Homo sapiens: one gene and its partners. The protein of the gene in region 4 interacts with the protein of the main gene of each other region in a biochemical or structural test. Each region holds a gene or a part of one and is shown on either strand. Other genes may lie near its edges. The genes, in order: MAP3K11, MAPK9, DUSP16 and MAPK8IP1.

Evidence for each region.
Region 1: the proteins of MAPK8IP1 (region 4) and MAP3K11 form a complex in vitro, tested with the Homo sapiens proteins (2 studies listed by BioGRID).
Region 2: the proteins of MAPK8IP1 (region 4) and MAPK9 form a complex in vitro, tested with the Homo sapiens proteins (one study listed by BioGRID).
Region 3: the proteins of MAPK8IP1 (region 4) and DUSP16 form a complex in vitro, tested with the Homo sapiens proteins (one study listed by BioGRID).

What each region holds. Positions count from the first base shown.
Region 1 is NC_000011.10:65,603,418-65,611,549, forward strand, and holds part of MAP3K11 (mitogen-activated protein kinase kinase kinase 11), read right to left. Parts: intron 5,032-8,132; coding exon 4,851-5,031; intron 4,654-4,850; coding exon 4,505-4,653; intron 4,400-4,504; coding exon 4,224-4,399; intron 4,097-4,223; coding exon 3,853-4,096; intron 3,388-3,852; coding exon 3,274-3,387; intron 2,665-3,273; coding exon 2,529-2,664; intron 2,436-2,528; coding exon 2,344-2,435; intron 2,226-2,343; coding exon of another isoform or gene 2,176-2,225; intron 1-2,175. UniProt on the Homo sapiens protein: Activates the JUN N-terminal pathway. Required for serum-stimulated cell proliferation and for mitogen and cytokine activation of MAPK14 (p38), MAPK3 (ERK) and MAPK8 (JNK1) through phosphorylation and activation of MAP2K4/MKK4 and MAP2K7/MKK7.
Region 2 is NC_000005.10:180,281,753-180,289,884, forward strand, and holds part of MAPK9 (mitogen-activated protein kinase 9), read right to left. Parts: intron 5,316-8,132; exon of another isoform or gene 5,223-5,315; intron 1-5,222. UniProt on the Homo sapiens protein: Serine/threonine-protein kinase involved in various processes such as cell proliferation, differentiation, migration, transformation and programmed cell death.
Region 3 is NC_000012.12:12,472,021-12,476,234, forward strand, and holds the end of DUSP16 (dual specificity protein phosphatase 16), read right to left. Parts: 3' UTR 1,262-4,214; downstream 1-1,261. UniProt on the Homo sapiens protein: Dual specificity protein phosphatase involved in the inactivation of MAP kinases. Dephosphorylates MAPK10 bound to ARRB2.
Region 4 is NC_000011.10:45,895,346-45,903,477, reverse strand, and holds part of MAPK8IP1 (C-Jun-amino-terminal kinase-interacting protein 1), read right to left. Parts: intron 5,394-8,132; coding exon 5,288-5,393; intron 5,083-5,287; exon of another isoform or gene 5,007-5,082; intron 4,433-5,006; exon of another isoform or gene 4,387-4,432; intron 4,027-4,386; exon of another isoform or gene 3,943-4,026; intron 3,341-3,942; coding exon 3,026-3,340; intron 1,499-3,025; coding exon 1,417-1,498; intron 1,107-1,416; coding exon 294-1,106; intron 114-293; coding exon 38-113; intron 1-37. UniProt on the Homo sapiens protein: The JNK-interacting protein (JIP) group of scaffold proteins selectively mediates JNK signaling by aggregating specific components of the MAPK cascade to form a functional JNK signaling module. Required for JNK activation in response to excitotoxic stress.

The DNA of each region.
Region 1 (8,132 bases), about 20 Mb from region 4:
ACAAGCTTCACAGGGCAGTTGCTATCAGCGTAGCTGAGTGCACCCTGCCAATGTGCCACTCCTTGCAGCCAGCTCTCCAGGGACCAGAACAGCCCACTGGGGACAGGGTGAGGGTGTGTGTGACTCTCCAGTGGTATGGCTTATGCCGGGGACCATCTCACAGGGTCTGGGACCTCTGTGAAGCCCCATTATTTGATTCTTAGCTGGGTTTCGGGGGGTGGCTGTGAGGTCAATGTCATGTACTTTCATGGACCCAGATGATGCGTGGAGTGTGGGATTGGGCTAGGGGAACCAGATGCTCAGCCAGCCACTGAGCTGGGCAGCTGACATCCTTTCAGGGCAAGTGGCAATCCATTTCTTCATCAGCCAGGAAGGGCACTGGTGTTGAGGCCGACATACTTATCAAGAACAGTAACTACCATGGTTTCCAGTGCTTTCATGAAACCTCAGACATGTGGCCTTCTGGCCACACATCTGCAATTTCATATTGTGGGAGCATTCACTGTATCCCTGGGGGCTGCGGCTCTCTCAGTTTGCAGGGGCTGGACCAAGAAAGAAGGCATTTCAGATTTCTATGGGCACAGATGTCTACAGAAGTTATGATGCCATGAAATACTTCGAGGAGATGAGGAAGGCTGCTATCTCTCAGAATGCAAAGTGATTTTGGAATATGAAGAATTTCTTTGGGTTGAATTACTTAGAAGTTTGTCACTGATCTGAACTATTCATGAATATATGGGCTAATAAGTAGTTTCTCTTCATAAATAATTAACAAATTCTTTGGATAAAAAAACATGGGGCAAGCTTGAGAACGATGGGGCCCAGGCCCCTTGTGCCCCTGCTTCTGGGAGCTGAGGGCCAGAGAGTTCTGTGGAACAGTCAGGACCTGCTTCAGCCTACACACCTGGGTTGACAGGCTCTCAAGTTCTCCTTTGGCCCATCTGGCCTGGTACAATTTAGAGCAAGTGAATTCAAGAAGCCTCCTTGGCCTTCCAGCTCTCAGTTCAGTCCCTGCAGGACAGATGCTGGGGGCAGTGCAGCTGCTGGAGTAGCAAATGGCGGGGCAGATGGAGGCCCAGGGCTCTGCCTCTGTGGTCAGACAGGCAAGAGCAGATCAAATCCCTGCTCTACTGGTTGCCTTACATCAAACCACTTAATCTCTCTGTGCCTCAGTTTTCTCTGTTGTAAAATGCAGGCCAATACTACTACTCCCCTCACAGAACTGCTTGGCACATAGAAGAGAACCAACAAAGGTTAGCTGTTGTTACAACTATCAAGTGTAGCTCAGGGAATGGAAGAGGCGATGGGCTGGGTGGGATGGGAGGAGTGAGTTTAAACGGCTTGCTGAACAGGACTCTTCTGAGAGCAGCTAAGCGGGTCCTACATTCTGGCTGTGAGCAGCAGGTGTGGGGGCTCTGAGGATGGTCCCTAGGTTGGCACAGGGACCCACAGGCAAGGGAGGCCATAACTCTCTGGCCTCACTCAGAGCTGGGCAGTGTTGAGCTGAGTGAGCCCTCCTCCCTGCAATGCTGGAGCCCTGCCTTCTGCCTGACCCTCTGGCTTCCTAAGCAGTCTATACGTGAGAAGCCCTTTCTTCAAGTGAAAGCTTCTGAGCTCACTACGAGAGCATTGGAGCTGAAGCCTCTCTGGGTTCAAATCCTCAGCTGGGGGTTTGAGGTAGGTTACTTCACCTCTCAGAGCCTCAGTTTCCTTATCTGCAAAATGGGGTAATAGTAGCCCCTCTTCATCAATGCTTGGAGGGAATGCCTGGCACAGTAGGGCAGTTACCGTCATGGAGAACAGAAAGGCCCCGAGCTATCCTGGATGTGGTGAGAATGGGTCCTGGATCCTGCCTGCTCGGCCTTCTCATTCTCTTCTTCACCTACAGGCTCCCAGAAGGGGCTCTGAGAAGCACAGTGTGGCTGACACTTGTTTGGCTCCACCCCACACAGGCTGATTCCTTCCCCCATCTGGGTCCAGCTTCCCTTGGGTACCAAATGCCAGGTGGGCTTCCTGTCTTTCTTTTCTCCCTGGAGCCTGCTAAAGGCACAGGGGCTGCCATGGGGCCAGGGAAGAGGCTTCTTGCAGGCCAGGTCTGAGCAAGGGGATGAGACTCTGGGCCCCGAGCCGAGGCCTGGGCTGTATGCCGCTTGATCGTGGGCCTGTAGGTCAGACCTGGGTTCCAGGATCGGCTCTGTCTTGTCTCAGCCTTGGTTTCCTAGTCTCTAGAATGAGAGCAACCAGGGCAGGACTCCTGCTTTGCCTACTAGCCTATTGTGGCCTCCCCAAGGTGCCCACGGAAGGAGCTCAGCCAGATCCTGCCGGGGGAGGAAGGCCACTCACCATTGAGTGCTGGGGGTGTGGAAGGAGATCCTAAGGGGGATGAGTCATCTGAATCCAGGTACCATGTGGCTTCGTCCATGCGGGACCTTCTCCTGGTGATGGGAGGGCAAGGAGGGGTGCTTTAGGAATTTCAGGACTTGGGGAAAGCAAATGATGCTGGGTCTGGGGGGCACTCAGGTACTCACCTCCCATTCTGGGCTTCCCCAGGCTTGGGGGAACTGGGACCCCAAGCCCAGCATGCTCGCCGCTCTCCATTGCTTGAGTCCTCCAGACGTCGGGGGGACTGGCGGCCCCATGCCTGGCCTGGCTCTGCAGGCTCCACTGCAGGGGAAACCGATGAAATCGGAGATAATCTTTATTCTCCCTCCATCATCACAGTCAGGCTTCAGAGATAAACTTTAGAGTATGGGGAGCAGGCTGGGCCCTGTACCATTCCCAGGGTGAGCTTTGGGCAAGATAGATGGGTTTGGGTCTTGGGGCCAACAGTGGGGTGGGGCATCTCATCTAGCCCTTGGGCTGAAGTTTGCTGCTTAGTAATTAGTACAGACACTGACACCAACTGCCTGAGTTTGATTCTGGCTCTTCCACTTATTAACTGTGTAACAAGTTACTTTTTTCACTTTTCTCATCCATAAAACTTAAATTAACAACAAAAATAACTACCAAATAGAATTATTGCAAGAAATTAATATTAGCAAAGCATTTAGAAAATTAGTAGTACATAGTGTCATACAATTATTTGACTAAAAAAAAATAAGTAAAATTAATGCTGCTTGGGGAGTTCAGAGGTAACAGGCTAGACCTAAGGCAGGGAGCCTGGGGGCGGGGAGGAAGAGGGGATAGTGAGTGGGCTCCGCCTCCAAGAATAAGGTCTGACAGAGAATAAGGAGCTGGGGGGCGGAGAGGGGCATGAGAGGTGAAGTTTCTTACACTGGATGGCTCGGAACCGGGGAAAGGTGGGCGAATCCCCAGGCCCGACCTCGAAGACGTTTCTCCTCCGGTCAAGGCCGGGTGAGGCCTGCACGGTGATGCGGTGCTTGAAGTCTGGGATTTGGGTTGGGGGGAGCAGGGTTCAGGTTTGTGATGAAGTAGAGCCAGGACCCCAACCTGCAGGGGCCCAAGGCCAGCTCCCAGGCCACATAGGGAGCGGCACGATGGCTGTGAGACTGTGACCAGCCTCACTGCTTTCTTGAGCCCCTGGGTCTGGATAAGGAAAGCTACTCGTCTGAGTCGGAGATGCCCTGGCGCCGGCCGGCCCCGCCCACTAGACCTTCCCAGAACTTTCGTGAACCCCACCCCTTCCCACTCCCAGACCGACATGCAAATACTTCCGCCAGAACCCGCCCACAGACAGAAAAAAAACACTCCTGGCTCCACCCCTCCCAGCCTTCATCTCACGGGCCCACCCACAACACCCTAAACCAATCCCAGCGCGGTGAGCACACAGGCCTGGCTCCACCCCCACCCCCGCAGCCAATGGCGGGGGACGCCCCGGGGCCCGGCCCTCACCGAGTGGCATGCTGATACGCTCGCCGCCGTCGCGCGCCCGGAGCTTGCTGCGCTTGAATGTCCCGCGGCGGCGGCGCACGTGCGGTCGCTCGCGGTCCACCTGCTGCAGCAGCAGCGTCAGCTCGCGCTCGAACACCTCTAGCTCCCACTGGGCCAGCAGGTGCTCGCGCCGCCGCAGCTGCTCCGCCTGTGACCGCTGCTCGCGCGCCGCTCGCGTCAGCTCCTCCTCGCGGCTCAGTAGTTCCTGCGCCCGAGACAGCGATGGTGGAGAGGTCAGCCTGGCACCAATCCCGGCAGCGCCCGCCCCGACTCTGCCCCAGGGAGATCGGGGAGACACTCGTTCCAACGCTGGGTCCCTTGATTCCTCGCACCTTTTCCTTGGCTCGCAGCTCGTCGAAGAGACCCTGGATCTCGCGCTTCCAGCCTTCCTGCATGGAATGGAAGGAGTCCCGCGGCATTTCCCGTAGGACCTGTGCCTCCAGCGCCTCCAACTGCTGCAGGATGGAGGCGAAGTCGGGCCTGCGGTGGGGGTCCTGCGCCCAGCAGTCTAGGGGCACGGCGTGCAGCGGGGACAGAATAAGAAGGGGTCCGTGGGTGGATGTGTCCTGGGCCAGGGAGCTCTGTACCTCACCTGCCCTCCCCGTCCTCTTACCGGCCATAAGCTGTGCGAAGGGCTCGGGGCAGGTGGATGGGATGGGCAGTGTGAGCTTGTTAACAGCTACGCCATAGGCCACAGCAAGGCAGTCAATGCCACGGTATGGCACCTCCCCGGTCAGCAGTTCCCACAGCAGCACCCCAAAACTGTGGGCGAGACAACAGGTCTGTGTTCCCTTTTCTCTCCCAACCCCCACCCCCTTACTGCCACTTCACCCAAAAGCAACTAGGAGCCAAGTGGTTTGGGTCCCTGTCCCTGGACTTGGCCCAGCCCTAGATTTAGGCAGCCACCTCTGCCCTCTGCAGCCCCGTAGCAGCCCGTCCAGCCCCACCAAGGGCCGCACCTCCAGACGTCACTGCCCTTAGAGAAGGTGGAGGCCTTGATAACCTCAGGAGCCATCCAGGCGTAGGTGCCCGCGGCACTCATTTGTGTGGTTTTGTGCCACTCTCGGGCCAGGCCAAAGTCGGTGATCTTCAGGGTCTTGTGCTCCATGTCGTCACTCTCAATGGGCTGCAGCAGCAAAACTAGAGAAGAGGGGCCAGATTGTGGATGCTCCAGGATCAGGTGGTGGGGACAGGGTAAGAGCTGGGAGCAAACTCATCTGACGGACATCCTGGCTGGGTCCTGGGGGCACAGAGGTGACTTGGTCTAGATCTTGAGGACCTACTTGAGGTCAGACATTTCTTTTCTTTTCCTTTTTTTTTTTTCTTAAGATAGAGTTTTGCTCTTGTTGCCCAGGCTGGAGTGCAATGGCGTGATCTTGGCTCACTGCAACCTCCACCTCCTGGGTTCAAGCGATTGTCCTGCCCCAGCCTCCCGAGTAGTGGGATTATGGGCATGTGCCACCACGCCCGACTAATTTTGCATTTTTAGTAGAGACAGGGTTTCTCCATGTTGGTCAGGCTGGTCTCGAACTCCCAACCTCAGGTGATCTGCCCGCCTCGGCCTCCCAAAGTGCTGGGATTACAGGCCACTGCACCTGGCCGAGGCCAAACATTTCACACTCAACCCCAGCACTCAAAACCATTTATGAGCTAAATAATATTTTTCATGTTTCACAGATGAGGAAACCAAGCAGGGAAATGACTTGGCAGAGGTCATACAACAAATACAGCAGAGATTACAACCTGGTCTGTGTGGCTCTGAAACCAGTGTTCTAGCTTTTCCCTAATATTACACTGAAGCAAAACTGGCAAGGTGGCAGCTCTGGACATTTATGGCTTTGATTTCAAGAGAGATCTGTGAGTCTCCTGTCATTTTGTTGAGGCAGGAGCGTGAATCAGAACCCCCCTTAGAGTGGGGAGCAAGAGGGAAGCTCTTGGTGAGAAAAGAAGCCCAGCAGGTACCACAGGCCCCTAGTGCCCACATCACACTGTGGCAAGTGCAGCCACTCCCAAAGCAAAGACTCCAAAAGATACCTACCAATGCAGCTGGAAGGGAAGAGAAAGGGTGGGGTCCAAGAAAGTGATGGTTCTTGGCCACAAAGGAGGAGCTTGGGGTAAATGTAGGCGTGGATGGTCAGACTTGGCAGGGGCTCATGGCTTTAACCCAAATGGGGCCACCGTACTTGGTACAAAGAGGAGAAGCAGCAACTTGCATATCTCTCACCAGGACAGGAATGGCTCAAATGAGAGAAGTTTTCGAGGAATAGAAAGAGGACAAAGTCATAGAGTCATGAAGGGTCTGAAGGGCCCCTCTACTTTTCAGGTTACAGCCAACTGCACTGTGGAAGAGAAGCAATATCAAGTCAACCATGTTTCTGGACCCATGTCAGGGCACACCTCTCAGCTCTCCTGCCCTGTGTGACACGGCTGTCATGGGGGCAGCATAGGGCACAGGGGGTGGGGCAGATGGGAAGGGCACCTAATACAGCCTGGTGAGTCAGGGAAGACTTCCCAGAGGAGGTGGCAGAACCAGGGTGCTCATTTTTCAGGGCTTAAAGCAACAAGCCCTGATCCTGCTGCTGGCCAGGCCACCTGGGCCTTGAGGAGGCATCTGGCACTGCTGCCAGCTGTCCCCGCTGCCCCACCGTCCTCAGCCCCCACAGCCCCTGGCTGCTTGGCTCTGTTTCTGTGTCCTCCACCTTCAGCCATTTCGGCGCTGGTGCTTCTCAGAGCATGACCTCTCCTCAACCTCTGCCCACTGCCCCTGGCTGACTCAGCCTCTTCCAGGTACCAGCTCCCTCTCCCCACTGGCATCTTCCACATTTGCAACTCCAGGCCAGACAAATTGGTTCAGCAGCTCTACCTGATGTCCAGGTGCCCTCCATGACCACCTTTACTATCCCGGCATGCCCAGTAGATTTTCCTGCAATTTTTCCTAATCCAGAGAATGGTCTCAAAATCTACCCACTCCTCTGAGCCAGACCTTGGAGCTGAGTCCTGAACACTTCATCAAGCTGAGGATGACAACAAAACCCTCCTCAGATGGCTGTCACGAGCATGAAACAAGACCACACTTTTAAAGTTTTTGCATGGGGGCTGCCACCTGGCAGAAGCATCCTAAAGGCCAGTTGTCCTAAAGCACTTATCGTATCTCCGCCCTCCTCTCCCTCCTCTGTCACTCCTTACTGCCAACTTCAAAACAGCCTCTGGTCTGGCTGCTGGAGGCGGGGACCTGAGCATTTAGCAAGCCCCCGACGACAAGCTCATTCCAAAGGGGAAACACAGCAGGCTGGGGCAGTGGGTGGAGTGGAAATGGGCACCTCCCCTGGTGCCAGGGCCCACCTTCCCCTTTGAAGACCAACACTTGCTGCTTCTTGGCCTGTCTCTAGCCACTTGTGGCACCCCAGACTGGCAAAGTGCTGTTCCAGTATCTCAGGCCGGGTGGCCACTCTCCACCTTTTTCAGGTGGGGAATCTGAGGCCCAGAGAGGGGCAACAACTCACCCAAAGTTTCAGGACTTCTTTGTACTTGTGGTCTTTCTGCTACCTCCCCGCTCCTGGCTCTGCCAGCTGCTAAGCCCCATCCTCTGCTTTCTCTCCAAGCTCCTCTCTGTGCTTTCAACTGTCCCAACTCGAACTGCTGTTCTGGTGTCTGATGTAGATCCCAGGCATGGGAGGTCAGGGGTCACCCAGAGGAGAATGGGCCAGAGACCCCGAAACTGGGGGAAGCTCTCAGTGCCCCTTTAGGGCTCCCTGGCCTCTGATAGGGACCTGGCCACCAGCTCCCTCCCTGGGCTGGCCTCTGTGGGGCTTGGGAGTGGCCTGGGCAGCTCACACCTCTTCCGCTTTCCTCCCGTGGTCCCTACTTCTCCTTTCTGGGAGGCCTGGGCCAGGTCTCCCACTTGGGAGGGGGAGTCCTTTTGGGGAGAACTGGGGGAGGTCAGGCCCAGGCCGGGCTGGCTGGTCAGTCCTGTGACTCGTGGGCCTGGAGAATTCCCCCTCCTCTCCCCGCCAGGCTTCCTCACAAGGCCCCCATTGTCCAGGAAAATCATGCCATTGTTTCCTGCCTGTGCCCCCCACCAGCCCAGGGACTCCCCCCACCCCAATCCTGCAGACAGCAACTTGGGCCTAGGACTGGGGTCTCCGAGGTTAAATGCCAGGCTCAGGGAGGCTGAGGGCACCTTGCCTGCCCTTTACCACCACCTCCCAGACTCTGAGAGGGAAGCAGGGGAACTAGAGGGG
Region 2 (8,132 bases), on a different chromosome or scaffold from region 4:
ATTAATAATTTCTCCAAGTGACCACTGCCCCACGGTCTTCTCCCCGTCCTCTGGGTGGTGGCTGCAGTGTGGCTGCCACTCTGACCACTCCTGCCGAGGTGTGTTAGCGTGCCAGCCAGGGAGTGACTCCAGTGACGCCACAGCGCTTAGATGCTGGACAAACAGCTGCTCATACAACCCGCACCGCAGGAGTCTCAGTCCCGTGTTACCTGGGAGCAATCTAGGGCTGAGTGAGCTGGAACACCTGCCTAGCCCACACTGCTGTGAGAAGGGGACTCAGGAGCTCTCCAGGCTGGCAGGTCACTGTGCTCTAAGCTATAGGAGGTGCGAGGCAGGTCTGTCTTGCTCATGGCATCTCATACTCCAAGGACAGGAGGACAGGAAGCTGGTCTTTGGGGCACTGTGAGCATTCAATAAACCTTTGTTGATCTGATTCCCCACAGTGCTGCTCCATTTTACTGATATCTAAAGGAAGATCCTTTCTAAAGATTAGCTTATTTACAGTTTGCAAGAGGCTGAAACAATTCCACTCAACATTTAGGGGGTACCTTTATGCACGAAAGTGGTAAGTATAGCAAAAGATATGCCATAGTCAGCTAGCAACCAGTCTTGAAACAACATGTACTTCACTATTTGGGGGAGAAGCGCGAGCAGTGAGTCCATTATCTATATTACAAGTCACAGTGCGGTAAGGGCCATAAGCACAATGTAAACAAAATCAAAAGGCAAAAGAGATCCTACCCACTGGCAGGGGCAGAAGACAAGGACGGCTTCAAGGAGGAGGCGGCATCCGCCCTCAGACTCTTTTGCCAGAGATGGACAGTAGAGCCACAGAGCTCAAACTGACTGTGTCCAGACACAGCGAACTGCTGAGCTTGGCTAGCGGGGTACAAGTGCAAAGGATTAGAGACAACTCAGCAAAAAGGCAGGCACCCACTACCACCTGCTTTACGGAGGGTGGCTGTTCCTCTGCTATGCCGTCAACACACCAGCAACACAGTTACTTGCAAGCATGTACTGAGCACCCGCTGTGGATGGTGAGGTACCATGCCAGGACACTCGCCTGCCCTCAGTGAGCGCACACTCAGGAGGAGGCCCTGCACACCAAGGGTCCTAAACCCAGTAGGGTGAAGAAGATTTGGGGGAATGGGAGGAGAAGCAGCAGAGGCGGAGGCACATTCGGAATGTGACAAGTCACTAGGGACTTGCTGGGTAGAGGGCGAGTGAAGCTGGAGAGAGAAAAGGAGGCCAGATCACTATGAGCCCCAGAAGCCACGCAGAGCCGTCTGGCCTCAGTCCTGAGGGCTGTGGAAGCCGTCAAAACATCAGAGGTGCGACACAGGCGCTGAGGTGCTCCAGGATCCATCCCTCCCTTCCTCGCTTTCATAAGAGAAGCCTTCCTTCCCCTTCCTGCTAGATAAATGGCTGCCCAACTAGAGACGACGCCTGGCAGCTTTCCCAGCAGCCAGGTATGGCCAGATGACCAAGTTCTGACTAATAAGATGTGGGTAGAAGTGATGTATGCAACTTCCAGATCACTTTTATTTTTCTTTACAGAAAGCTGCTTGCCCTCCAATCTTTCTTCCTTGCTGCTGGCTGAGGGATCAGCTGTCACAGACCCAGAGATGGAAGTCACATGCTGTAGATGGAAAGCTGCCCACCAGCTGGATTCCTTAACTACCTCATGGCACAGAGCCACCCCCCATTCAGGACCCCGTGTCCACGTTGGGACTGACAGATCAATCTCAACCCTGCTGACCAACTCTGCAACTCTCCCTGCTATAACTGCTTTCAACCTATATTTGGACTATGACAATATTAGGTTAACTTTTTTAAATTTGGGGAGTATATTCACTCATATTAGGTTTTAGAATTGTAATTCCATCTCAAGATTTAAAATAGTCCGGGCATGGTGGCTCACACCTGTAATCCCAGCACTTTGGGAGGCCAACGTGGGGGAATCACTTGAGGTCAGGAGTTTGAGAACAGCCTGGCCAACATGGTGAAGCCCCATCTCTACTAAAAATACAAAAATTAGCCGGGTGTGGTAGTGCGTGCCTGTAATCCCAGCTACTTGGGAGGCTGATGCAGGAGAATCATTTGAACCGGGAGGTGGAGATTGCAGTGAGCTGAGATCGTGCCACTCCAGCCTGGGCCACAGCGAGACTCCATCTCAAAAACAAACAAACAAAAAGATTTAAAATAATTATAAAATTAAAATAAGGTACCCTTATTATGCAGGAGAAAAAAGTCACCTAAGTGAAAACCTGTTAAAGCCACCTTCTCTGTCAAGTTTGGGCTTTGTGAGAGCAAGAGAAAGAAACTTAAGGCCACCTGAGAAGGTGTGTAATTTAGCTATTCATGAGTCAACTCTATTGAGATGATATTTCAACAAAATGGACCATCAACTGGGGCTCAGAAAACAGTTTTACAAATCGGGAAGTACAAGAATTCTTCATGAAACCACATTAGCAATACACTAAAGCCTGCATTCGCTGCCTCCACTTCCCACACCAGCCGGTGCTGGTTCCTCCCCCTCAGCTCCCAGGCTGTGCTGCCACCATCCGTCCAGCACAGGGCTCCCTCCTTGCCACTTGTGCACTCAGCAGCGCCCGCCAGGCTGCACTGTCACAGCCTTTGTAGGGTCTGCCTCCCTTCCAGGCTATGAGCAACTCAAAACTGGGAGGGAACGCTACAAGGAGGTTTCCTGGAGGAGGCAAGACCTGAGCTCAAGTTTGTTCACAGTATCGACCGAGGCATGAGGAAACAGGCACTTTCATACACGTCAGTGAGAGCTGAGAAGTGGTAAAACATTTTTTTAGATGGAATATAGATCTGGCTAATAAAAATGTTAACTGCATATCCTAAACTGGCAAACACAATTCTCTAAGTGTATCTGACAAATACGTGTACAAGTATCCAAACATATTTGTGCAAGCATGTTTGTAACACTTCTTGTAACAGGCAAAAAACTAGAAGTAATCTAAAATGCACACTGTGGATGGACTGAATAAATTATGGCACAGAAGTACAACAAGGCCATTCAACAGAATGCAAGGACTTTATGTATCAATGTGGAAAGATGTCTAAGATACAGAAAGGAAATACACCAAGTTGAAGAAGAGAACACATAATGCCCAGCTACGTAAACACACACACACGCATACACACGCACATACACAATGCTGGCAAGTAGAGAAATAGTGGGAAATGAGAAACTTTCTTCCCATTATAACTTTCTATTCTGTTTTTCAAATGTACATATTTCACATTTAAAAACTGATTAAACAACACATGTTAAATGAAAAGCTGCAGAATGATCATTTGACACTTGTATGGAAGACGGGCTTCAGGCAGATAAGGCTAGAGGCATGAGAGTGGGCCTGGCTCTGAGGTACACATTTATCAACACCCTTATAACAACTAGTGAGAAGCATATTACTATCCCCGCTCTGCAAATGAGGAAACTGAGGCTTAGAGGAAGTTGTCCAGTAAGGAAGTTGTCCAAATTCCCAGCATGGCTCAGATTTGAATTTAGGAGTGTTTCACCACAATATTCAAGTTCCTCCCAAAGCACCATTCTGATATCCCTTTAGAAAGTGAAGCTATTTGCACATGGGCTGGCCAGGACCAGCACACAGTCCTGCACATTTCACCTTGCTGACTCCCCCTACCAAAACCTACCAAAACACTTTTTCCTCTAACGATGACAACGATTCAGTGATCCACAGACTCAAGTGAACCTTTCATCACACTAAAGCTTCAGAGTACCCAGGACATGCGATATTTAAATCAACTAACTATTGTGATTAAAAGCAGATTCTCACAATCACCCTCTGTCTCAATGCTTGCTGCCGACATTTTTTTCATTAAATTGTTCTGTTTTCCAGCTGGGCAAGATGGCTCACACTTGTAATCCCAGCACTGTGGGAGGCCGAAGGTGGGAGGATCACTTAAGCCCAAGAGTTCCAGACCAGCCTGGGCAACATGGTGAGGCTTCAACTCTATATTAAACAATAATAATAATAATAATAGTAAAAATCTGGCCGGGTGCGGTGGCTCACACCTGTAATCCCAGCACTTTGGGAGGCTGTGGCGTGTGGATCACGAGGTCAGGAGACGGAGACCATCCTGGCTAACATGGTGAAACTCCGTCTCTACTAAAAAAATACAAAAAATTAGCCGGGTGTGGTGGCGGGCGCCTGTAGTCCCAGCTACTAGGGAGGCTGAGGCAGGAGAATGGCGTGAACCTGGGAGGCGGAGCTTGCAGTGAGCCAAGATCACACCATTGCACTCCAGCCTGGGCGACAGAGCGAGACTCCGTCTCAAAAAAAAAAAAATAGTAAAAATTTAAAAAGTTCTATTTTCCTACTGTAATTCTTTATTCTTTCTTTTCTTTTTTTTTTTTTTTGAGACGGAGTCTCGCTCTGTCGCCCAGGCTGGAGTGCAGTGGCATGATCTCGGCTCACTGCAAGCTCCGCCTCCCAGGTTCACGCCATTCTCCTGCCTCAGCCTCCCAAGTAGCTGGGACTACAGGCGCCCGCCAGCACACCCAGCTAATTTTTGTATTTTTAGTAGAGATGGGGTTTCACTGTGTTAGCCAGGATGGTCTCGATCTCCTGACCTTATGATCCGCCCGCCTCAGCCTCCCAAAGTGCTGGGATTACAGGCGTGAGCCACCGCGCCTGGCCTCCTACTGTAATTCTTATGAAGAATAGCTTGGTATAACAACGTAATCTTTCTTTGATAATCAAGAACCTTGCAGCTCTCAGGGCCATCCTCTGTAGTTCTTAAGCCACAGTATATACCACAATACAGAACAACTAGCATTTGGTTATCACTTCACCCACTGTTGGATCCATAGGACCCTGCAAGGATCTCCGTCACCAGCCCCACTTCCAGGCACCCAGGCCTGCCTATTTCCCTCTCAATCCCCCACTCCCAGGGCCCTGGGTAAGGGCTTCTCGTGGCTCCTTGGACCAGCGACAGCAGAAGCATTCTCCCAGCCACCATTTCTGTGACTTCCGAACCACTGCACACATGCCACTTTAGAAAGAGAAATCACTCCACGTGAGAATATGTACACAAATGTTCACAGCAGCTTTATTTTTAATAGTGCCAAACTAGAAACAACCCAAACCTGTCCTTCAATGGGTAAATGGTTAAACTAACTGCTGTATACCCATACCATGGAATACCACTCAGCAACTGCTGAAACATACCACAACTTGGGTGGATCTCAGGGGCAGGATAGTCAACGAAAAAAGCCAATCTCAAAAAGTCACATCCTGTATAACTCCATGCATATAACATTCCTGAAAAGACAAAAGTATAGAGATGCAGACTAGATTAGTACTTGCCAGCAGTTATGAATGGTGGGGAAAAGGGGCTGCTGTGGCTGTAAGGGGGTGGGACAAGGAGATATCTGGGATGATGACATAGTTTTGAATCTTGATTGTGGTAGTGGTTATAGGAATTTTCACACGATAAAAAATGACAATGAACTCTATACACCTTGCTCCGATGCCCAATGTCCTGGTTTAGACATTTTACTACAGTTGTGTAAATATGTAACCGTGGGAGAAAGCTGGGGGAAGGGTACTGGGACCTCTCTGTGCCATTTGTGCAACTTCCTGTGAATCTATAATTATTTCAAAATATGGAAAGAAAAAAGAGAGATTTGTTGAAAGTGTGCAGTGATCACACCATTCTCCCATTTGAACTCCTTCAACAGTGACTGACTGCCTGGAGAATAAGATTCAGTTCCCTAGCACAGCACAGGAGATGGCAGTCCTCTGGCCCAATCTTAGGCAACATCAAACCACCTGGGATCAGCGGACACACCCAGCTACTGCACACCTTCAGGCCTCTGCCTAAGCTGTTCCATCTGCTTGAAATGACTTCCCTCCCCTTTTTGACCTGCTGGTCAACATTCACCCTCCTTCAAAAATCTAGTTCAAGCACTTGCTTCTCTTACATGTTTCCTCCTCCAGCCTTTCCCTTCAAACCATGCTGGGCATGCCCCCATTTTTGCCACCCTCCCAGTATTCGCTTTAGATTGCATTCCGAGTCTACTTACACTTCTACTCTGTAAGGGCAGAAAATGTGTCTGATTTATTTCTCAATCCTCTACTGATTACACAGTGGGTGCCCAAAAAATGTTTGTTAAAGACAAAGCTAAATGGGAGAAAAAATGCGGTAGGGCAGCTGGGAGCAGTGGTTAAGATCGGGACTTTGACTTCAGACTCCCAGTGGGTCTGCTATTTATCTGGGTGATGTGCAGCAAGCGATTGCACTCATCTGCAACACGGACGAGCAGAGAGCCTCAGGGTACCTCTAGATAAGAAGTGCACAGCCCACTTAGGAAGGCATCTTGATGCAGGAATGCACCCTAAATCTGACGAAGCCTCGTCTAGATCCAATTACTAACTTACAGAGATTACAGAGAAACACATTCAATTACACTGCAGAGATGCAATCAATCAAATACCAACTATGGAAATGCTAAGGAACAACTCGATTGCTTCAACAAATAAACTACCAAGAAAACAAAGAAATAGGAGGGGGATCTATGGATTAAGAGAAACTTAAAAGACGTATCATCCAATCAACAACGTATGGCCTTCTCTTGCTCTACTTTCAAACTATTAAGGAAACCTAAAATTCATGGGGCAGCTGGAAATTTGAATATTGACTAGTTATTTGATGATATTAAGCAATTATTACTTTTTCAACTTTAAAAGAGTCAGTACCTTTAGAGACCTACCGAAGTGTGAAGTATAACTACTGTACACCTCCTGAGCACCCTGAGGTTGTGCCCGTATGTTTTACAGATGAGTGCAATCGCTTCTGCACATCACCCAGATAAGCAGCAGACCCACTGGGAGTCTGACTCAAAGTCCTGATCTTACCCACTGCTCCGAGCTACCCTACCACATTTATTCTCCCATTTAGCTTTGTCTTTACCAAACATTTACTGGGCACCCACTGTGTAATTAGTATCCCAAAAAATAATGAATGAAATGACATGATATTTAGGATTTGCTTGAAAATAATTATGGGTGGTAAGGGTGCAAGTGGATACCATTAGAGATGAAACAAGATTGGTCAGGAGTTAATAACTGTTAAAGCAGGACACTATTCTGTTTATTTTGTATATGTTTGAAAGTTCCCATAATAAAAGTTAAAATAAAAAGAATGATGTTGAAACTGGTTCATACAATCAAGTACAAAGTATCAGGAATTAATTATTCTGAAGGAAAATTATGTAAAAATGGCACCTTCCTAACCAAGTGTGAGGTGTAACTACTGTATGTATGTAGACCAAAAATAGTTGCCCTATTGGCAAATCAATAGTCTCAAGAAGAAAAAAAATCTGGTCTCTGTTTTATCTTATGCCTCATGAAAACAACTGGTTTACTCGCTATTAACTGGTTTGTCTGGTCCTTTTCTTTATCCAGAAAATTAAGAATATTTTATCTTAGACACATTCAAGTATCCCCTCTGTTGTTTATTTACGGGACCAAATAAACAGATTTTAATCTGTGAACAAATTAAAGTCCTGGCACCCTGAAAATTAAATTGCCAGGAAAATCAAAGCTGTCAAAAGAGAAGTCTATGCAAAAATAGTATTGTTTTTAACTCTGCAGGATCCTTTTGAAGAAAAAAAAAAGTTAAATGGAGGAAAACATTAAATAGATTGGTGGTCATTCTTCCAGAACAAGTTAAAAGCCAAAAGAGAATACTCAGAGCTGAGGGACCCAGGAAAGAATCCTTATCTGGGAAGTGATCTGGGTTCGAACTCCACTCACCAGCTGCTTGCTAAGAAACAGACTACTTAGACTCCTGAGCTTCCGTTTCCACAGGGCTCCAGTTACAATCAAATGAGTATCTGGGCTGGCACCTGGGCAAACAGGGCCTGGCTCCCCTGGCCTTAGGCTACCTTTCCTGCTCTCCTCACAGCTCCTCCCTCCCACACAGCCAGTCCTGGAGGATGACGATCCTGCAACCAAGCTGAATGAATCTGTATTTGGCTTGGCTCACAGCATTAAAAAAAAATTTAATTAGCTATTGCCAACATTTAAAAATCAGAACAAATGTGGAGTGCTGCCTTCCTTTTTAGAGACAGGGTC
Region 3 (4,214 bases), on a different chromosome or scaffold from region 4:
CCCGAGCGGGTTGCCACCGCTGGCTCGGGCAGCCTGCTTTTATTCTCTTATCTGGCCCCACCCACATCCTGCTGATTGGTAGAGCCGAGTGGTCTGTTTTGACAGGGCACTGATTTGTGTGTTTACAATCCCTGAGCTAGACACAAATGTTCTCCAAGGCCCCACCAGAGTAGCTAGATACAGAGGGTTGATTGGTGCATTCACGAACCTTGAGCTAGACACAGGGTGCTGATTGGTGTGTTTACAAACCTTGAGCTAGATACAGAGTGCCGATTGGTGTATTTACAATCCCTGAGCTAGACATAAAGGTTCTCCAAGTCCCCACCAGACTCAGGAGCCCAGCTGGCTTCACCCAGTGGATCCTGCACCAGAGCTGCAGGTGGAGCTACCTGCCAGTCCCACGCCCTGTGCCCACACTCCTCAGCCCTTGGCTGGTTGATGGGACTGGGCGCTGTGGAGCAGGGGGCGGCGCTCGGGGAGGCTCAGGCCGCACAGGAGCCCACGGAGTTCGGGGAGGCTCAGGCATGGCGGGCTGCAGGTCCTGAGCCCTGCCCTGTGGGAAGGCAGCTAAGGCCCTGTGAGAAATTGAGCACAGCAGCTGCTGGCCCGGGTGCTAAAAGCCCCTCACTGCTCGGGCGGTGGGGCCAGCTGGCTGCTCCGAGCGCAGGGTCCGCTGAGCCCACGCCCACCTGGAACTCGCACTGGCCTGCAAGCACCGTGCGCAGCCCCGGTTCCCGCCCATGCCTCTCCCTCCACACCTCTCCCTCCACACCTCCCGGCAAGCTGAGGGAGCCGGCTCCGCCTTGGCCAGCCGAGAAAGGGGCTCCCACAGTGCAGCGGCGGGCTGAAGGGCTCCTCAAGTGCCGCCAAAGTGGAAGCCCAGGCAGAGGAGGTGCTGAGAGTGAGTGAGGGGTGTGAGGGCTGCCAGTGCGCTGTCACCTCTCACTAATTTCCCCTTAGTTTATTTTTTGTTTAAAATGGAGTTTCGCTCTTGTTGCCCAGGCTGGAGTGCAATGGCGAAATCTTGGCTCACTGTAACCTCCACCTCCTAGGTTCAAGCAATTCTCGTGCCTCAGCCTCCCAAGTAGCTGGGATGACAGGCACCCACACCTGGCTAATTTTTGTATTTTTAGTAGAGAAGGGATTTCACCAGGTAGGCCCGGTTGGTCTCAAACTCCTGACCTCAGGTAATCCACCTGCCTTGGCCTCCCAAAGTGCTGGGATTACAAGCGTGAGCCACCGCCCCCAGCCTCCCCTCTTAGTTTAATTCCTGGTCTAATTGTAGTTGTCACATCCAAACCAGTCCTCCAACAATAGCCTGCTGAGGCTGGTCATGAAGGGGCTCCGAGCACTGTCAGCAACTGGCCTGAACTTCAGGCTCTCCCAAGATCTGCATCTTCTCATTGGAAGCCTCTCACTGAAACAACTGTTCCTCCTGTTACCCTCTATCTCTGGAGGCTGATTTATTCTAATTCCCTTTATTCCTCTATCTCACTTCCACCTCTTTTTCTGCAGGGTCCTGGCCAAGATAGCTCTTCTAGTCTAGCTCACCCGGCCCAATCTTTCTTATAAATTTTCTTAAATGTAACTTCAACTCAACCAACTTCAAGGTCACCTGTGATTCTTTCTGTAGTCAATATTCCATCTGTTTGCACTGAAGCTTTATTCCTTCAATGCCTAATTTTTATGAAACTGATGAGACTAAGTTTCTAGTCTCATAAGTCATCAAATCTAGTGTCATGAGCAGAGAGGTTGTTGAGATGTATGTGGCAAGGACAAAGGACAGCTCTTCAACAATTGCCCTTCCTGTTTTTCCTGTAGGAATCGTAACATCATTTACATGTTATATCGAAATGGGCCATGTGTGTGTAGCTGGCCTTTTTTTTCCTACCATGTACTTGTGTGTTCTGGAATCAGTCAGCTAGAAAATATTTACCAAGTGTCTTAGGCTTTTTCACTGTAGTGTGCATTTAACGTACACAGTAAAGAATGAAGGCTGGCACTAAACTGTTAGCTAATCATCCGGTGTTCCATGTGAATGACAGAACACGGAATAAACCTGATGACACCACCACTTTATTTTGAGCTAAATCCTCATTTAAGTGAGAACAGGACAGGTTTCACCACTGCCTCCTTTGGCAACTTGAGTGGTGGTGTTCCCACCGAGTTTATGGCTGCAAAGATAGGTCTTTTCTCGTATTTATGTATAAACAGGTACCAGTTTTGATTTTATTTAATCATTTCATACATTAACATACATGACACATCAAAATGAGAAATGCACAGTTTAACCGTTCAACAGCTGGCCTTACTTCAAAAGAACACTATATTCATATTAAACATTTACAGTCTTTCCATCTAACTTTACACATGTCCTAAATCATTTTCCAGCACTTCTCACATAGAAGTCTAGTTTTGCTCTTTAAAATCACCATCTGTATCACCCCTAGTAGACGCGAGGGTTTCCCCAATTACATGCTGAAGAGAGCCAGCCACCACCCCACCTAAAGACATCCAAGCAGCTCCAGAGCCTGCCTCCGAGGCCACCCCTTCGCCACGGCAGTCTCGATTCCAAGAACTGATTATCTGACACTAGTGAACCAGCACTAAAGGCTGTAGGATGTGACTACATCACAGTTCCAGAAGGAAGGGGGACCATGGCCAAGAGAAGCCCTAAATGACAGAAGCTCATTAAAACCAAGTCCCCCAAACCTCCTGAAACATCGTTAGCAAGGAGCTACTGCTTTCCTTTCTTAAACATGTTTTGGGCATGACCACACTCTGGAAGTGGTGAACTGTTACACATTTGGTGTGTGTGTACATAACATCAAAAACTACTGTGTGAAACTTGAGAATGTCTGATTAAAGATTTCAATGTATATCTAAAAACTAACTCAAATCGTTGACCAGCACTTTCCCAGTATCATAACAATGCGGCTGACCCTCTTCTGCCTTCACTTTACACCCCATCATAGCACATTATTTGTGCACAACTAGTGAGGTCTGTGCGGCTCATCATCCCCATAACCAAGTCGGTCTGTGTTGAGTCATATCATTCTGTGCTGGTTTTAGAAGTCACCATAGGAAACATGAAGTCACATCCTGGTCAAAAAACTGTCCATTTCTCAAAAACAGAGAAAAACCTGAGATACGAGGCAGCAACTAGCGACACTTACAGGAAGGGAAAGAACAATGACAACACCCGCCCAGCCCCACCCCCAAAAAGCTGCTGTTGTGAATTAAGGCTTCAAAAGAGGACCCACATTGTAGCTGATAAAACTCAAGCCAGGAGGATGTTTGAAAGCCAATCTGCACTATCACTTGTTCCAGTGACCTCCTATGTTCAGCTGCCAGGACCGATTCCATACAGTGATTGTAGGTTGAGGACTGAGGACGCCCCTTTGCTCTCGCTCCATTTTGATTTGCTTTTTCCACTGAAGACACGCCGGCCAGCGTTTCCAAAAACAGCTTGGCCATGGCTTTGCACTCTATTCACAACTGATCAAAACTCAATGGTCTTCTCAGCTTTCTCAACCGTTTTATTCTGAATATTCCTTCCTCACTAAAGCCTCTCTCAGCCCTACTAGTAAATGTGAAAGTCTGAGGCAATCATAGAAACATCAGCCCCATCGCATGCCGAGGGGATAAAAGCCACTAAGGAAACAGGTTTCCTGCTTCTCCTCAGCAATTTGTACCTTTCTTAATCTTCCCATAATTTACCTCCCTAGGAAGTTTCCTATAAAATTCTGCCATATTATTACATTTTACCAACTGTATCCATGCAGTGAAGCAGAAAGGGCAAAAACATCTGCTTTGGCTGAGAATTTGAAGGTGCTGCTGCTCTGCTACCAACCCAAATAAATTCACATTTGGCTTGAAACCAAGTTCATCTTTATTTAAAGGATTGACAATCCCATTTTAAACAATTCTTTGATTTACAAAGAGGGAGGTAGACTCGTTAGCCTCCCAACCTTAGCTTAAATCGTGATGTTGCCAGGTTCCTGGTGGTTCAGCTGAATCCTAGACAGTTTCCCTTCTCTTCATAAAGCTGAGAAGAAAAAAAAATTATCTCCATCTAGGCCCACGGGAATTTTGTGCATAGACAGTTTGAATTGGTCTGAAAAGTGTGACTAGCTACCTACCTATTCACAATGCCTAGAAAATGGGCTACCAGATATGGTAGTGGTCAAAGCCCCGACTTTCCTGTCTGAGGT
Region 4 (8,132 bases):
GCTGCCTGGCTAGGCCCAGCCAGCCCATGGCTCTCACCTGAATATGGCCCGGTGGGTCTGCTCCTGCTCCTCCCCGTTGATGATGCAGGAGAACAGCCCGAAGGACTCAGCACCTGCAGGTGAGGTGGTGTGGCTGGATGGGGGGTCGCAGCTCTGATCCAGGTTTAGCGGGGCAGGTAGAAGCCTCAGTCCTAACCAGATGGGGCCTGGGGTCGCCTCCCAGAACACTTCGCATTTTGGCTCTGCCCCCGCTAGGGACCCCCCCACCCCACTGCTTCCCCTTGCTGACTCACTGGAGGAGCGGGAGCGGCCACTCATGAAGACGTTCAGGAATTTCTTGGAGAAATGGACGTCGGGTTCATCAGGCGTGGAGTCCTCGGAGAGGCAGGCAGGGGGCTGGGGCCGCGGGGCCTCCTCATATTCCTCTCCGATGGCCGACTCATAGGGCGAGGAGACGGAGGCACAGTTGTCATAGACGGTGGCAGAGTCACTCTCGTCACTGTAGTCTCCGAAGCACGGCCGCAGGCTCACCAGCTCCAGCTGTGCATGCTCATCTACCACCAGCGTGTACTTGACAGAGTCATAGGACAGGGCGCTGGTGTCCGAGCTCAGAGAGGCCCGTGGAGGTGGCGGCGGCTCCCCCAGGCTCCCCCGCCACCCTCCGCCTGGGGGCTCAGCCCGCTCTGGGGACGACAGGCAGTCGAAGCCCTCTTCCTCTTCACTGATGGAGGGGTGCGGCCGCCCTGCCGTGGAGGGGTAGGCGGCAGGGTCTGGATCGGAGCTGACTGACATCCGGCTCTCAGTGGGCGGCAGGAAGGCGGAGGTGGGCTCTGCAGCGTCTGGGGGCCTCTGCACTGGGGTCAGGTAGATCTCCTCAGTGGCCTCTAGTCGCACATCGGCCTGGTAGTGGATTCGGTCTCGATGCGAGTGGCCCCGACCCCCAGGCGGGGCAGCAGGGGGACCACCCGGAGGTGCCATCTGGGTGGCTGTGCTGCGGCGGCAAGGGCTGTCGGTGGAGGTGCCTCGATCTGTGGTGGGGGCGGGGCCGCTCTGGGGGGGCAGCTCATCGCTCAGGCAGATGTGTTCATGCGGTGGTGTCTGCTCCCCTGGAGAGCAGGCAGGTCATGAAGGCAGGGGCTCTCTCCCAACTCCCAGCTACCTGCACCTGCCACTCTCAGCTTGGTGACACAGAAACCAAGACAAAGCCTCCCTGGGCAACAGGCCCTTCGCAGGCTCTGGGGCCAGTCAACTCACTCATGCCACCACTGATCTCAGCCCCTGGATGGGCTCGTGCAGGGATGTGGGTGGGCAGTTCACCTCTACTCAGCCCTTTGGAGACTGTAGGGTTTGCTCTCTGTAGTGGGGACTGAGTCAGGGCAGGCGGAGGTCCAGGTAAGGAAGAGGGCCCTGACTTACCTGTCTTCAGGGGTGAGGATGATCGAGACACCCGATCCTGCCAACTGTGCTTTTTGCCCAGAGAATTATTATTCAGTGTGTCCTGTGCAGGGAACAAAAGGCTCTTGTGATGGAAGTGGTCAACAGTGCCCGGCACAGGGAGGCCCCGGCCCTGCCCCCTCAGGCCATCCCTAGGGCCATTTGCTGTGTCCACCCCGCCTCCACTGTCAAAGGCCTCACTCGTAACTCTCCTCTGGAGCAGGCAGGAAGGGTGGCAAGTCACAGCCAGGCTTGCCGGCTCTGGATGGCCCTCCGCCTTGCTCAGGGAAGCTGGCCAACCCTCAGGGAGATGCTCTTATCAGCCTTAACAAAGGTGGTGATGGCCAATGTGTGTGGTGGCAAGAGGGGGAGGAGGCAGGGGAGAAGAGAAGCAGGAGCTCTCTGGAGACACAGTCAGACCCCCAGTCCCAGGTACTGAGGGTTACTTGGAAAATGCTCAAATCCAGCCCAAGTCAGAGACAGGTGACTCTCTGCTCTGGAGCTTGGGAAGTTATGGCCTAGAAGGGGTGAGGACCTTCTGGTAGAGCCTGGAAAAAGCACAAGGAAGGGTCTCCCTAGCAGCTGGCCTGGGGGACCAGGATGAATCATCCCAGTGACAAATCCATAACAGAGTTTTCCTGCACCCCCCACCACAGTGGCATGAGACTGAGGAGTGACAGATGCAGTTGTCAGCAGCCCTCCTTCCTGGATCTCCTGGGCTGCCCATTCTACATTCTCAGCCCTGGGACCCCTCCCCACAATGCCCACACAGGGCTCCCTCCACTCCACGGAGGCTCCCTCCCCTGGGAGCTCTCTCCCAAGCCCTCACGTTCCTGAGCCGGGCTGCCAAAAGCCATTCACAGGATCCTGGGAAAGGGACCAAGCCTTTCCCCGCAGCCCCAGCCGCCCCACCTCCCAGGAGCTCCTTGCCTGCACCGCTCCCGATGGGCCTGGAAGACAAAGGGCCACAGCCAGCTCCCCCAACCCTATTCAACTCTCCTTGGCATCCAGCCACCCTCCCAGGGGCCCTAGGTCCCCAACTTAGCCAAGCAGCTCCATCTCCCATTCCTCCCCCCTGCCTTCTGGGAATTCGCAGCTGCCCAGATCTTAAACTGGCTGTGGCCCCTGAGCTTCCCATCCCCACCTCGCCACGATCTCCCACGGCCTCCCCCACGATGACCATTTCAGATGCCCTTTTCTCCAGGCCCTGCTCCTGCTCCACTTTCACCAGGAGCCCCATATCCTAAAGGAGAAACCCTGTCACAGCCTGAGGTCCCAGGCTCCAAACCCTTCGAACCCCTCAAAGCCTCATTCTCTTAATTCCCTACTCCTCTCCTAACCCCAGTCCTTCCCTCCTTCAATCCCGCCTCAAGGCTCCAAGCCCGGCCAGCTGGACTCAGCCCCCTCTTCGTAAGGATGGTTCTGCCCGCTCCTCGGATCCCAACACCGGGAGCGAGCCACCGCGGCCCCTATGCAGGCGCTGTCCCCAGGCACTGGACCCGTGGGTGCCCCTTCCCGCTGCAGCCCCTCTGCGCTCCCCCTCACATCTCCGCGGCGGCCCAGGGCGCCGCCCCCCACGTTGGCGCCTCACCTGAGACCGCGGCACCTGCGGAAAGAGGTTGAGCGTGGTGGGCCGCTTGGGCCGGTACGTGTCCCCGCTGCCCGGGCCCTGGCTCTGGCCTTGGCTCTGGCCCTGGCCGCGGGACGCCGGCTCCTGGCCGGACTCGGCCTTGGGCGGCCCCGCTCCCGGCCGCCGGGCCGCGCGCTCCTCGTCGTCGTCCTCCTCGTCGTCCTCGGCCCCGGGAGTGTCCCCCGTCGCGTCGATCAGGTCCATCTGCAGCATCTCGGCCTGCAACCGGCTCCCCGCGCCGCCGCCGCCCGCAGAGAGCAGCCCGGCGCGCGGGGGCTGCACAGCGCACGGAGGGGCGTCAGGGGGCGGGGCCGGGGCGGGGCCGAGGCCGCTTGCACCGCCCCCCGCCCGGGCGAGTCCATTCTGTGGCGCGAAGGGGGCACGAGGGGAGCCGAGCAGGGGCCGCCGGAGACTGGGGCGCTCTCGCCCGTCCGCCGCGAGGAAGCGCGAGGCCGCCGCCTCCCCGATCCAGCCGTGCCTCTGACGGCCAGCACCTCCCCACAGTCCCCACCCCGGACTCCTTGCGCCCTCCCGTTCCCCTGGCAACGGCCGGTGACCTCACCGGGGTTGTAAGCCGAGCCCAGAGTGAAGTCACCGCTGTTGCTATGGGGACTCAGTGGTCGCCAAGGAGTTCGGGGTGGGGTGGGCAAGGGATGGGGGTTGGGGAAATAGTATTTGAAGGGGTCTTGAGGAAAACTGGAAAAACTGAGGCTCAGCCAAGCAAGGAACGGCGGAGACCTGAGAGGGATGGGAAGGAGACGCCGAGGGGGAGGGGCGAGCGGGGGCCAGGAACCAAGGCGGTGGCAGCCGCGCCCTAAGCCAGCTGGCCCGGGGCCCCTCCAGCCCTAGATCGGTCCTCCACGAGCCTGCCTTGAGGATGCAGAGCCCCATCTAGCTCCAGTTCTGCCGCCAACTCCCTGGCACCTTGGACAGATCCCCTGATCCTTCAGGCCCCCTCATCAGTTGAGTGGGGATAACACTACTGCCTCCCAGCCTCTGAGAGAGCTGAGTATTCACTGGAACGTGTGTGAAGCCCGCTGGAGCTTGTCTGAGGCCCCTTAGGGGCACACCTCTGGCCAGTAGTGCCTGGGGCCCCTGCCTAGCTCGGAGGCAACCCTCTCCAAGGCTCTGCTGGTGCAGCTGGGGGAGAGGGCAGGGTGAGAGTCCAGAACAGGTGCCTGACCTCTGAGAAGCTAAGTCAGGGCTCTGAGACCATTCCCCAAATCTAGAGGCCTCTGCCTCTTCCTGGCCTGGCCAGAGAGTGGAAGGTTGGGGTACTGGGGACTAGGGGATTATCCTCACCCCTTGGTTTCCTCTTGCAGAGCTTACTGAGTCTCTGGGAGTAGCAGGAGGTCAACACAGAGACAGGTACTCCCTCCCCAAGGCACACCTCACGCTCCTATGGTAACCACTCTCCTGACACCGTATCTGGCTACCCGCCCTCTTGGGGGCTCAGAGGAGCTCTGGGCTCTAAAACCTAGCCCTGTGCTCTGTCCTCCATTTCCTGGCAAGCCGGCCCCTTCTTCCTGTTCTGAAAAGACATAGTTGGGATCCCCATCTGACCCCAGTTACCCAGGTGCTGGGGACCTCCTGGCAGCATTCAGATCTTTAGGGACAGGAGAGAGCCATCTTCCCTATGACAAAGCCAAGGGGCCCAAACCAGCAGCAATGCTGGGCAAACCCCTCAGTGGGGGCCTTTAGGACTATAGGCCAGAGAGGGTCTGGGAGGCCGCGTGGTGCCATCTGTCTGGTGTAATAGCAGCCAGCAGCCACAGGAGCTATTCCAGGGGTGCCTTGGCTGTTTCTTCCTGCCCTAAAGCACTGCAGATTCCACCAGACTCCACCCTGTCTGCCTCAGGCCCTCTGCCAGGGCTGCTCCCAAAAGGATTCAGGGGTAGCCCTGAGTCTCCCTTAAGTCTGGTCCTAATTGTTACTGCCCTAGGTCTCAAGACTTCCTGGCCTCTCCCATCTCGTGGGCAGTTGAAGGAGCTACTTCCTGTCTTAGTCCCCGACAGCAGTAATAATAATAATAATACCAAATGAAATTCTGATTGTACACTCAAGACGTGCCAAGCAGTATACCTATGTTTCTTGCACATCATTTCATTTCATGAGGGTGCCAGCACAGACCTGAAACCCCCTTTGTCACTATGGGGATACCCTTACCCCTGTCCCTAGCCTTCCTGCCACCCCACTCAGGAGCTCCTGGGAGCTTGCCCTTACCCGTAAGGACAGGGTGTCTTTGCACTGTAAGCTGATGCCACACTCATCAGTGATCTCCGAGAGGTCTTCATCCTCAAACTCCTCCAGGCTGATGTCATGGGTGAGCCTGGTGGGGACAGGAAGCCAAAGTTACAACTCAGGGGCACTATGCCTGCTCACATCTCCCTGTTACCTCTTCCAGGGTGCAGCCTCTTGAAGGCCAAACACAGCCCCCAGAGGACAGGATTTGGGGTTCATCTGTATCAATGCAGGGGGTGGTCAGCAGGCAGGGAAAGAGCGAGGGGCTTGTGCCAAAAGGCAGTCCTCCTAGGGTGGCAGTGGAAGAGGAGGCTCCAGGTCACTCTGGCTCCTCCCTGGAAGCTGTCATTCTGTTGCCAACCAGCAGGCAGTGCTTAGAAGGCCCAACTGGTCAGAGCCTCCTCCCAGGGTCAAGGCAGGTGCCAAGGCCAGTTCACCATGGAGAATGTGGACTTGAGAAGAGCAGCCTGGAGTAGGGGAGCTCCCAGTGCAATCCCTGCAGTAGCAAGACCCGAGGCGCCGGCAGCAGCCTCAGAGGAGTGCCCCACGCCCCAGCTCAGGAAGACTCATGCCCCTTGAGCCCAGGGAACAAGCGAAGGAAAATCTGGTGTCAGTGTGGGTAGTTTCAGCCTATTCCAGAAAGGACTCCAGCCTCATGCTGTGCACTTGGTGGTCTCATCTCTTCAACCACAACATCTTCTCCTTATCCAGTGTAAGGACCCTGAACAGGAGGCTGCACAGATGGGGTCAGGAGAAGCCCCAGGTGGGACCAGAGGTGTTACAACCTTGGGAGACAGCTCAGAGCACCAGGGCACCAGAATACTAACCAGCTCCACTAGAACCCCCCTCTCCCTAGGCCAGCCCTGAGTCCCCACCTCAGAATGCAGGGCTGGGCCAGCCACTGCAAGGCAGCCTGTCTCTTGCTCACCTCTAGGTCCTGGGCACTCTGCCTGGCTTGCTGGGGGGGTGGTGGGGGGGTAGAACATTTAGGAAGTTGGGGAGAATGTATGAGCCTTTTCCCAAATAAGTCCAAGAAATTGAGGCACAGAGCAAGGGAAACCCACTAGTTCAAGGTCACCCAGGAGAGATGGTGGCTTAGCCCCCAGGGGAACCTAGGAGGCCCAGACTCCCTGCCACTCGCCTCATTCAGATCAGAGACCCTGAGCTCGATGGAGCTCACCCCAACTCGGTCTCCACCCCCGCCAGCCCCGGTAGCCCCTACCAGCGCTCCCATTGATCCTCCAACCAGCTGTCATTGTCTGGGCTCGAATCCATCTTCAGCACCAGCTGCATGGAGAGCCCTGCCCGGCCGGGGGGCTGCGGGGCCCCAGGGCTGCCCTCTCATGCCCGGAAGGGTGGGGGGGCCAGGGCTCAAGGCAGGGCTGGGGGCCTCTGGCCTCCACCGCTTGGGCCTGTCTTTCTGCGTCCTGCCTGCTGCAGAAGCCTGGGGAGCTCATTAAAAATAGACAGGCCAGGAGAGGAGGCTGCAGCTGCCGACCCGGGTCCCAGCCCCAGCTCTTCCCAGCGCAGCCCTCAGCTGCAGGCACCTTCCTCCCGGCTGGCCTGGCCCTTGCGCTGCTGCCGCTGTGGCCGCCTCCCTCACGGGATCAGGTTACTGCAATCAATGCCACTGGCTCCACCTGCCCTTCCAATGCCCCTGTCGGGGGCTGAGTGGCCCCCCCTCCCTGGCCCAGGCTTGTAAGTAGATGGCAGAAATCTAGGATGTTTCCCCCCAAAAGCCAGCCCTTGGTTGGCTTTAAAGGGCCAGTTCCCCAGTCAGGGTGCCAGGTGGGAGATGAAGGGGGGCTTCCCAAACACCCTAAGAATGAACACTCGGTTTGCACTGCCATAGGCTCAGCCCCCCGACCTCATCAGAGAGGCTTCTGTGGGCCCAGGCTGCATCCAAACTGGGTTTGATCTGGGCTGCCTCCTTCTGCAGCCAGAGCTTGAGCCTTCAGGACCCAGGAAGGCAGGGCCTATGGAAGCAGGAGGCACCAGAGCCACAGCTAAGGGCAGGCCAGTGTTTGGGCCCTTAGAGCAGAGCTGGAAGGGCTGCTGTGTGGTAATGAGCTTCCTCTCCCTTTGGAATGACATAAACAGAACCTGGAGGCCCCTGGAGGGCACTGCACAGAGGGGTGGGGAATGGGGGCTGGATGGACAAGGTGCCCTGTAGGGTCACGTCTGACCTGCAGCCCAAGGGTGGTGGTTCCCCAGGCCATGGGGAGGGTGTGGCTGGCCAGCTGGGGTGGAAGTGGGGAGGAGGGCCTGGCCCAGAAGCCAGAGCAGCCCTCCTCCGTCCGGCCAGGGCAGGGTGGCATCTCAGGCTCAGGGACAAAAACCCAGTGGCCAGCACCAAGTAAGTGTTCAATTCACACTGGTTGCCCAGATGGTCACCGAGAAGGCCAGTGGTGCAAAAGGGAGCCCCTGGTACTCAGATGGCATGGGAGAGCTGCAGGACCGCTGACCCAGAGGTGCCCTGAAATGCCCCTGCTCTGCCAGTGACCTCTGCACATATATATATATATATATATATATATATTTTTTTTTTTTTTTGAGACGGCCTTTCGCTCTGTCACCCAGGCTGGAGAGCAATGACATGATCTTGGCTCACCGCAGCCTCTGCCACCTGGGTTCAAGTGATTCTCCTGCCTCAGCCTCTTGAGTAGCTGGGATTGCAGGTGTGCATCACCATACCTGGTTAATTTTTGTATTTTTAGTAGAGACAGGGTTTCACCATGTTGGCCAGGCTAGTCTTGAACTCCTGACCTCAGGTGATCTGCTCGCCTCGGCTTCTCAAAGTGCTGGGATTGCAGGCGTGAGCCATGGT